Homo sapiens: one gene and its partner. The protein of the gene in region 1 purifies or fractionates together with the protein of each later gene. This does not show direct contact. Each region holds a gene or a part of one and is shown in the gene's direction. Other genes may lie near its edges.

Region 1 (5,855 bases):
AGTATTGGATGTTCTGACCGGGACAATCAGGCAAGAGAAAGAAATAAAGTCTTTTCAAATGGAAAAAAGGAAATAAAATTGTCTTTGTTTGCAGATGACATGATCCTATAACTAGAAAACCGGATCATCTCAGCCCCAAAGCTTCTTAAGCTGATAAGCAACTTCAGCAAAGTCTCAGGATACAAAATCAATGTGCAAAAATCACAAGCATTCCTGTACACCAACAACACGCAAGCAGAGAGCCAAATCATGAATGAACTCCCATTCACAAAGGGAATAAAATACCTAGGAATACAGCAAACAAGGGAAGTGAAGGACCTCTTCATGGATACCTATAATCCACTGCTCAAGGAAATCAGAAAGGACACAAACAAATAGAAAAACATTCCTTCCTCATGGATAGGAAGAATCAATATCGTGAAAATGGCCATACTGCCCAAGGTAATTTATAGATTCAGTGCTATTCCCATTAAACTACTATTGACATTCTTCATAGAATTAGAAGAAACTATTTTAAAATTCATATGGAACCAAAAAAGCTCATATAGCCAAGATGATCCTAAGCAAAAAGAACAAAGCTGGAGGCATCGTGCTACCCAACTCCAAACTGCACTACAAGGCTACAGATGCCAAAATAGCATGGTACTTGTACAAAAATAAACACATAGACCAATAGAACAGAGTAGAGATCTCAGAAATAAAACTACACATCTGCAGCCATCTAATCTTTGGCAAACCTGACAAAAACAAGCAATGGGGAAAGGAATCCACATTTAATAACTGGTGCTTGAGAACTACCTAGCCATATGCAGACAATTGAAACTGGACCCCTTCCTTGCAACTCATACAAAAATTAAGATGAATTAGAGACTTAAATGTATAACCCAAAACTATAAAAACCTTAGAAGAAAATCTAGGCAATATCATTTGGGACACAGGCACAGGCAAAGATTTCATGAAATTGCCAAATGCAATTGTAACAAAAGCAAAAATTGACAAATGGGATCTAATTAAACTAAAGTGCTTCTGCACAGCAGAAGAAACTATCATCAGAGTGAACAGAAAACCTGCAGAATGGGAGAAGATTTTTGCAATCTATCCCTCTGACAAAGGTCTAATATCCAGAATTTACAAAGAACTTAAACAAATTTACAAGAAAAAAATAAACAGCCCCATCAAAAAGTGGGCAAAGAACATGAACAGACACTTCTCAAAAGAAGACATCCATGTGGCCAACAAACATATGAAAAAAAGCTCAACATCACTGGTCATTAGAGAAATGCAAATCAAAACCACAATCTCATGCCAGTCAGAATGGCATTATTAAAAAGTCAAGAAACAGCAGATGCTGGTGAGATTGTGGAGAGATAGAAATGCTTTTACACTGTTGGTGGGAATGTAAATTAGTTCAACCATTGTGGAAGATAGTGTGGCAATTCCTCAAAGATCTAGAACTAGAAATACCGTTTGACCCAGCAATCCCATTACTGGGTATAATAGAAATCATTCTATTATAAAGATATGTGCATGCATATGTTCATTGCAGTGCCATTCACAATAGCAAAGACATGGAATCAACTCAAATGCCCATCAGTGATAGGCTGGATAAAGAAAATGTGGTACGTATACACCATGAAATATTATGCAGCCATAAAAAGGAACAAGATCATGTCCTTTGTAGGGACATAGATGGAGCCAGAAGCCACATCTTCAGCAAACTAACACAGGAACATGCAAATGCTGCATGTTCTCACTTATAAGTGGGAGCTGAACAGTGAGAACACATGGACACCAGGAGGGGAAAAACACACACTGTAGCTTGTTGGGGTTGGGGTGAGGGGAGTGAGAACATTAGGACAAATAGCTAATGCATACTTGGCTTAATACCTAGGTGATGGGTTAATAGGTGCAGCAAACCCATGGCACATATTTACCTATGTAACAAACCTGCACATCCTGCATGTATACCCTGGATATACATGCCCAGGATATACATTTTATTTAAAATAAAAATAAAAATAATAGATTCATAAAACAGAATATAATTCTGAACTTTGACTCCCTGTACCTTTAAGAGGGACCCTTAAATTTAAAAATCTATTGTATTTTTTTTTTAGTAGGGGTAGGGAATATTTAGGGAATTTGGAAGGGGTTATATAGTTCTTTAAGAATCAAATAGCACATCTTCCTGAAAATAGCACGTAGACAAAGTTTTTTTGGAGATAACCTTAGGAATATCGTAACTCTCTGATGCCACCTCCATATGTGATCCTATGTTGATTATAAGATTTTGATCAGTGGCTTTCAGACTTTTTTGACTGCAACCTAGAATAAAAGATTCATTTACATTGTGACCTAGAACACACACACACACACACACTCTCTCTCCGCCACTCTCCTGCACACAGAAATCATTGATGCTTACAACAATTCTTACTCTTACTATGGGTGATTTACTTTGATATGCTCTGTTTTTTTTTTCATTTACAAAACTGTGGATTAATTTTTTTTGACATGCTAAATTGATCTCAGTAATAGATTGTATTTATTCTTCCTTAGATTCTTCTTTGGAGCAGAATAAAAGATCTGGCCCATCAGTTCACACAGGTCCAGCGGGACATGTTCACCCTGGAGGACACGCTGCTAGGCTACCTTGCTGATGACCTCACATGGTGTGGTGAATTCAACACTTCCAGTGAGGCTCTGGGCCCTGTGGGATTGCCCAGGGATGTGGAGGGTGAACAGAGTGACTTCTGCTGGAGGCCCTGAATGATTAGTGTGGAGGACAGAGCCACAGGCACCCATCCTGATGCCATCTATACTTATATTAGTCCATTTGTGTTGCTATTAAGGAATACCTGAGGCTGCGTAATTTATAAAGAAAAGAGGTTTATTTGACTCACAGTTACGCAGGCTGTACAAGAAGTAGGGTACCAGCATCCACTTCGGGTGAAGGCCTGAGGCTGTTTCCACTCATGGAGAAGGGGAAGGGGAGCTGGCATTTACAGAGATCACATGGTGAGGGAGGAAAGCAAGGAGAGGTCAGGGGAGGTGCCAGGCTGTTTGTAATGACCAGCTGTCCTGGGAACTAGTAGAGTAAGAACTCATTACTATAAGGACAGCACCATGCCATTCGTGCAGGATCATCCCTATGACCCAAACACCTCCTACTAGTCCCGAGCTCCAACACTGGGGGTCGAATTTCAACATAAGGTTTGGAGAGTTAAATATCCAAACTATAGCACTACCCTTAATGGCAACTCAGGCTGATATAAAGTAGCATTCCCTGTTTTCTTGAAAAATTGACTTCAGAGTTGGGGATTGCCCATGCTCCCTAATTCCCTTCTTTTGAGTGCTCACATAGCCTGCTTCCGAATTCTTGGTATTTTGCTCTCTGTAAGGTCATCATTCAGGTCCAAAGAAGTCTAGAACAGGATGAGGTCTCAGTGGGACCTAGACCAAGGTTCTTGCTCTTCAGAATCATCACAGTAGCCATGGACTGGACTCTTCCATCTCAGGCACTGGCTTTGCCATCATTTTTCAGATGTAGCCTTATCCTGCCCAGAAAGACTCAACACCTCACCAGGGGAAGGGATTTCCTACAACCAAAACCCTACTGCAGTTTTCACTTCTTTTTTTTTTCTTTTTGTTTATATGGTGGATATTTTTACTTTATATAGTTTTATTCTTATTTTTACTGTTTTTCATTGTTTGTTTTTAAAAGCTTATCTTATTATAGCTTCTTTGTCCCAGGTTTGCATTACTTTCAATTACAAAAATAAAGCATGATTATTTGAAAAAAAAATACTTGCACATTACAGAAATGCATAAAAGCAAAAAGCAAATGTCACTCTGAATTTTCCCTTCACCTCCTACCTCCGCATCACTTCTCAAAGGGTAACTATTATCAGCAATTTGATATAGATCTTTCTAGACTTTTCCTATGCTAATGTAAACATATATATTTAAAATGTACACGCGCTGTTGTGCAACTTGCTTTATTCACTTAAAATTGGTAGGTATAAAGATAGCTATCCTCTTTTAAAAGGCTTTATCATTAAGAATCCTATTAATGGATATTAAGTTGCTTTAGTTTTGGTTGCTATTATGTCATTATTGTAAGAAACACTTTTGTGCGCACACACACACACACACACACACACACACACACACACACCTGCATACTTGAACGATAAATTTTTATAAATGAAACTTCAATGTTAAAGGATAAATTGTAATAGAAACTGGTAACATGTCATTTAAAAGATGGTAACTATACCCTCATCAAGAGTATATATATGAGGCCAGGCACAGTGGCTCATACCTGCAATCCCAGCACTTTGGGAGGTGGAGGAGGGAGGATCACTTGAGCCCAGTAGTTTAAGAACGGCCTGGGCAACATAGTAAGACCCCATCTCTATTTTACACTAAAAAAAGAAAAAAAAAGAATGTATATGAGATAGTTTATTTACCTATATCCCCACTAACACCAGGTATTGTTACTTTAAAATTTTTGGCTCATTTCAGAAGAAAATAATACCTCAATTTAGTGTGAAGTTCTTTGATGGTGAGGCTACTATATATACATAAATGGTAGATTTTCTGTTTCTTCTGTAAGCTGGCAGTTCATATATTTTGACCATCTGTATGCGGTATCTATTATTTTCTAATTAGTAGAAGTTCTTTATAAATTAATAAGAGCTACGATGTATTAAGTACTTACAAAGTGCCAGTGTTCCATGTGCTACGTAAGTAGTCACTCATTTAATCCTCCACAGCCCCATGAGGTCATATGGTGATCCCATTTTAGAGATAGGAAGTCTGAGGCATGGAGTTAAGTAATTTGCCAGCCAGTAAGTGGCAAAGCAAGAAGCAAAGTTTCTCAGACTAACTTGAGAAACTTTGCTCTTAACTGCCATGTTTTTCTGCCCACTTTCTGGCTCAAGTTGGCGAATATATTTTTCTTATTTTGGACTTTACACGGTGTTTATGGTCTGTCTTTTGCCACCCAGAAATGCAGAAAACCTGTCTGTTCTCTTCCTTATAGCTTCTGTGTTTCATATCTTCCTTAAAAAGATCTTCTTAGAGAAGCATTCTTCTGTATTTTCACCTACTATTTTTACTTTCACAATGTTTAAAATATTTTCCATATTTAGATCTGAGTCTTCCCACCTAGAATATGGTAATATAAATATGTTTTTCCATTAATTTTTTTAGATTTTACAGTTTTTCCCATGTTCCATGTTTTCCTTTTTAAATTTCCCTTTTAACAATGACTGTTTTATTGGTCATTCATTTAACATTTAGCTTTTAAATGTATTTACAGTAGACTTCTCTCCTTTTGTTTTATTTTTTAATTTGTTCAATTTTTCTTGAAATAAAGTAGAGAAAATGAAATAATTTATTTTTAAGAACTGATTTATTTACAGTTCAGAGTTCCTTATTTTTGCCTTCTTTTAAATTGAATTATGTATATGTAGTTTTATTTATCTACATTCTAATACTTTGGCCTCAATTTTTAATTTCTTCTTATTTTATAGATTATCTTTCAAGTTCCTGATGTATATGTATTTATTTACTTTTTATTCTAAGTTGACAATTTATAATTGTATGTATTTGTGGGGTGAAAAATGAATTTATGAATACAATGTGGGATAATTAAATCAAACTAATTAACATATCCACCGCCTCAAATACTTTTTTTAGTTTTTGAGACAGGGTCTCACTCTGTCACCCAGGCTGAGGTGCAGTGGTGCAATCACAATTCACTGCAACCTTGACCTACCAGGCTCAGGTGGTCCTCCTACCTTAGCCTCCCAGGTAGCTGGGACTACAGGTGCCTGCCACCACACTTG
Region 2 (5,451 bases), on another chromosome or scaffold:
GGGGGAAGGGTGTTCCTGGAAAATGCAATGGCAAGTGCAAAGATCAGGAGGCAGGAGTCTATTTGGCGTGTTCCAGAAACATTGTGGAGGCCATGTGCCTGGAGCTGAGTAAGTGAGGGGGAGAATGGGAGGAGGTGAGGGCAGGGCGGGGACTTTAGCTTTTCCCCCAAGTGAGGTGGGATCCCCGGGAGAGTGTTGAAGCAGCCCCCTCTAACTGTCCTGTGGTTGACAGCAGTACCTCCCCTCAGGATCCTCTATGAGGATTACATGAATTAATACGTGTGAATCGAGAGTATGGTAACTGACATAGGAAAAATGCGGTAAATGTTAGCTTTTATATGTGGGTGAACGTGCGTGTCTGAGCCACAGCTGAGGCCATGTAGCTATTTGTGAGTTTGTTAATGTGAAAAAAATCTCTGAAAATCTCTTTTTAAAACTCTGCTGAGTGTTTGACAGCCCTGCTGGGGCTGTTGCTCTCTGGTTTGGACACGGGATCTTTTCTGTAACAGATGGTATCCAGGTGCAGCTGAGGTCACTCAGGCCTCAAGACACAGATAAATTGGTGCTGCCTCTTTCCCATGACCTCAGGAAGCCCAGTGTTTTCCCCCAAGAAATCTGTGGGGACAATTCTTGGGCCTTCCTTCTCGTGAGTGCTTCTTGGCCTGAGCCCCTGCCCAGCAGATCCCTTGGGTCATCTGCCTCCCCCAGGGCTGTTTCCTCTCCTGAGGTCAACCCACTTGGAGGAAATGACCACATCCCTTGATTTTCCTCACCCATGTGAAGTTTCTGTAGATTGCCTGCAGGCCTCTTGCAAGATGCAGCTCCCTCTCCAAGATTCTGTTGTGGGCTGATAAAATAACTCTTTTCACCCTACCATACAGATTCAGATTTAGGCTGTAAATTGGAGTGGAGTTTCCAAGGCTTCTGAGGGAGCTCTTAGATACATGTTGCACGTAATACTCAGTTGCCGGCACAACTTCTGAACAGGACAGGGCTGTTTTCTCTAAGAGGAAACCTTTGCATTTGTATCAGTTAGCTTTTGCTACATAACAAGCAGCCCTAAGATTTATTGGCTCAAAATGACAGTTTATTGCTCTTCATGATTCTGTGAGCTAACTAAGCAGTTCTGGTTTGGGTCATCTAGGCTGGGCCTGAATAGGCTGGGATGGCCACACTCACATGACTGGCCATTGGCTCAGTGTCACCTGGGTGATGGGGATGAGCTGGCCCAGTGCAGCCATCATCCAGCAAGCTAGCTGAAGCTTGTTTGTGTGGTGGTGGTGCAGGGTTCCCAAGATCAGTCAGAGAGGACAGGGCAAGTTCAAGCCTTTGTTTGTGTAATGTCACTGATGTCCTAATGGACAAAGCAAGTCATACGACCAAAACCAAAGTCACTGTAGGGAAGGGATTCCTTAAGGGAGAGGAATGCAGGGAGCCATTTTTGCAAACGGTTGGTCGTAGGATTGGATGAAGCAAGTTGTCGTGAAGGTATGGGCATTGTGAACATGGGTGTTGGGGGCTGTCTCTCTTTCCTTTTGGACTGTCAGCCTGAGGGCAGGGCCTGCCCTGCTGCATCTGGAGGGCTCCATCTTGCAGTACATGGTGATGGCTGGTCCAGGTATTACCCACCTTCCTCCAGATGTTGCATCACCCCACCCCAGGTGTGACCCTCGCCAAGATGTTAGTAATGTTTGCTCCCACGTTCTCACATGCTCATATCCCCCTCGTCCATTACATGCTACCCCAGGTGCCTGAGAGTCCAGGGGCTCTCCCCAGGCTGGACACGCGAAGAAGGCTCTAAACCCTTCCTATTGATGTAGCTGATTCTTTCCTTCCGTCTCTGCTTTCTCTTTCATAAAATGTAAATTCATCTGTCTTCTTTGATTTTATAATCTGAGTTTCTTCTCTGTTTTCCCCCTACATCCCCAATGTAGCTTTTCATCCCCACCATCTCTGCCTCTCTTCTGTCTCAGTTTTCCTTTCTTCTTCTCTCTTTCCCTCCCCACCCCCATCTCTCTTCCTCATCTTGCACTCACACACACACATACAGGTCATGATTCTGCCACTCCAATGGCTTAAAAATTTCCCCCAGATTCCCTAAAGCCTCCTGAGAGTGGCAGAGGATTCTAGGGGGTGGGAGAGTGAGAGAAGGGTTGAGCAGGTGGGATTTGGGCCCCTGTTCCAGCTTGAATGACGACAGCCGCTCAGCTTTGATCTGTTTGCTATCTTAGGCTTCCACACACAATGTTGTGTGGCAGAGGTTTCACTGCCCAAAGGAAAAGTTCAAACAGTTTTTGTGTAACACAGCAGAGCTCATGACAGGCTTAGAGTCAACCAGTCTGCTGAGATTAGAGGAGTCTCAGGAGAGCCAGGGCCAACAGCTTTAAGCAGCTGTCTGTGCATTGCATATCAAACTGGCGTGCAGTCTCCCAGGCAAATAGGACAAGCGTTGGCGGTGGGAGGGTGTGGCTAGGAAGGAGAGATGCCCAGCATCTGGGCACAGCATAGAGCGTGTGGCTGGCAGTGAGGTCCACAGCTGGCACAGTGGTATGAGGACAATGACTCATTCTGGGTAAACGTCAAGAGACGAAGCAGCTACAAAGAGCCAGGCTCCTGGAAAATTAGGCAAGGTACGCTTTGGACAGAAACTGTGAGAGCTTCTTCTTGTGGTTCCTGTAGTCTATAACTGCTTTCTCAGGGCTTGGGGTGTGAGAGAAAGACACGTGCTACTCAGGCCTAGAGTGAAGACCAGGACCACGCCTACCATTGATCACAGTTCATGGTTGCCGAAGAACAGATTTAATTGTACCCAGGGCTGTGCACTGCCAATGCTGGCTTGTTTCTGTGTTATTGGCAGCAATTTTATGGAACCGGCTGATTCGACTTTAAAAGAAACTTGTCCTGGAAAGGGCCTTTAAGAGAGTACATTGTCAAGTGTTTCTTTTTTTGAGACAGAGTCTTGCTCTGTCACCCAGGCTGGAGCACAGTGGTGCAATCTTCGCTCACTGCAACCTCTGCCTCCCGGGTTTAGTGATTCTTCTGCCTCAGCCTCCCTGAGTAGCTGGGACTATAGGCGTGCACCACCACGCTTGGCTAATTTTTGTATTTTCAGTAGAGACAGGGTTTTGCCATGTTGGCCAGGCTGGTCTCGAACTCCTGACCTCAGGTGATCCACCCGCCTTGGCCTCCCAAATTGCTGGGATCACAGGCGTGAGCCACCGCGCCTGGCCTGTCAAGTGTTTCTTATCCTCTCCTGGACTGCAGACCTCTTTGGAATCCTACTGACTGCTCCTTTCACAATCCCCCAAAGCATATTCACCTCAAAGACTTTGCAGACAGTTATATGAGATCATGGTTGGTCCTGAACCTCGTCCTTAGAACCCTTTTCAGGTCAAGAAGTTATGATTTAGACCAGTTACCTCATTTTATACATAAGGAAACCGAGGCACAGCGAGGATAAGCAGTTTATTCAGGGTTTCACAGATAATCTGTGACAGAGCTGGGTGTTAGTCCTAGGTAGCAATTAACTGTAGAGTCAGAAATGCATTTGAATCCTGGCTCCCCCTCCTATCTCTTACCAACTCTGCAATTTAGGCAAGATACATAATCTTGTGCCTCAGTTTCCTCATCTGCAAAATGGAGATAACAATAGTGCCTACTTTGTGGGGAGTGCTGTGATTATAGGACAAATATGTGAGGAATTTAGAACCAATATCTTAATAAATAAATTGTAGCCCTTTTGTTTTGTTTTGTTTACAATCGTGAACCAGAGACAGATGTAGCTCTTATAGGTTCTATGTATTATTTTAAGAGCAGAGATACAAGTTGATTTTTTAGCCTGTACTTCTGGCTTAAGTGCAAGTTCCAACTGCAAGAACAAAGAACTGCCACTACCTAGCATTTTTTTTTTTTTTTGTAAATCAAGTAGAACTTATGGTACTGAAATATATGTGGTGATAACACCAATGTCTTAGCTTTTGTGGTTATTATCTGGGAATTTGCAGCTGCTCTTTATGAACTCACACATCTCTTTCCAAAGAGTGTATTGGTTAGCTTTTGCTGTGTAACAATGTGCTGTATTCATACCCTGAAATGTAGTGGCTTAAAACAATGGTCATTTACAGCCAAGTGTGATGGCTCACACCTGTAATCCCAGCACTTTGGGAAGCTGAGGCAGGCGGATCGTCTAATGTCGGGAGTTTGAGACCAGCCTGGCCAACATGGTGAAACCCTGTCTCTACTAAAAATACAAAAATTAGCTGGGCATGATGGTGGGTGCCTGTAATCCCAGCTACTTGGGAGGCTGAGGCAAGAGAATCACTTGAACCCAGGAGGTGGAGGTTGCAGTGAGCCAAGGTTGCACCATTGTACTCCAGCCTGGGCAACAAGAGCAAAACTCTGTCCCAAACAAACAAACAAACACCGATCATTTATTCACTCTTGTTTTGCTTGGCAATTTGGCTGGTTGCTTGGTAATTTGGGCTGAGTTCAGCTGGGTGCCTCTTCTGCTGGGTTTTTGAGCTTACTCATGTGGCCACAGCCAGCTGGAAGATTGGCTGGAGCTGGATGGTCTCTGGGATGGCCTCACTCACATGAATGGCTATTGGCCACTCATGTAGGGTGCCTTGGTTCTCCTCCATGGGCCTTCTCTAGCAGGCTAGCTTGGACTCATTCCCATGGTATTTGGAGAGCTGCCAGGAAAAGCAAGAGAGGGCAGGCCAACCTCAATGTTCAACCATTTTTCAAGCCTCTGCTTGTGTCATGTTTGCTAATGTCCTGTTAGCAAGGCACATGGTCAAGCCCTGATTCAGAAGACAGAGGAGGAGGCCCCACCTATTGATGGGAAGAGCTCCCTAATATTGTGGCTGTTTTCCCCCAGTATTCCACATGGAAGTTTAAATAAACAAATAAGGAGGAAATTATTAGTTCTAGAAGAAAGAATGAAAGAGACAGACAGACTTGGTGGCTCACGCCTGTAATCCCAGCACTTTGGGAGGCCGAGGCAGGTGGATCACGAGGTCAGAAGATTGAGACCATCCTATCTAACACAGTGAAACCCCATCTCTACTAAAAATACAAAAAATTAGCTGGGCGTGGTGGTGTGCACCTGCAGTCCCAGCTACTTGGGAGGCTGAGGCAGGAGAATGGCATGGACCCAGGAGGCAGAGCTTGCAGTGAGCCGAGATCACGCCACTGCACTCCAGCCCGGGCTGTGGAGCGAGACTCGGTCTCAAAAAAAAAAAAAAAAAAAAAGAGACAGAGGAGGGGAGATGGGAGGTTTGCTGTTTGCTGGTGAGTGGCTTGGCATGGAGTCTCTGTTGTCAGTTTAAAACTTCAGGTTGTGACCCTTAGGAGGTGTTTTCACTTCTCACAGTCCCTGGAGACCATCACCTCCAGGCCAGCCTGCCACCTGCCTCTGACTTCCACAGCTCTGAGACCCCCAGGGCCAAT

The links. The genes of interacting proteins can lie anywhere in the genome.
Region 2: the proteins of CD38 (region 1) and ZAP70 fractionate together in Homo sapiens (co-fractionation; one study listed by BioGRID). This does not show direct contact.

What each region holds. Positions count from the first base shown.
Region 1 is NC_000004.12:15,822,322-15,828,176, forward strand, and holds part of CD38 (ADP-ribosyl cyclase/cyclic ADP-ribose hydrolase 1), read left to right. Parts: intron 1-2,559; coding exon 2,560-2,695; intron 2,696-5,855. UniProt on the Homo sapiens protein: Synthesizes cyclic ADP-ribose (cADPR), a second messenger for glucose-induced insulin secretion.
Region 2 is NC_000002.12:97,725,823-97,731,273, forward strand, and holds part of ZAP70 (tyrosine-protein kinase ZAP-70), read left to right. Parts: intron 1-5,451. UniProt on the Homo sapiens protein: Tyrosine kinase that plays an essential role in regulation of the adaptive immune response. Regulates motility, adhesion and cytokine expression of mature T-cells, as well as thymocyte development.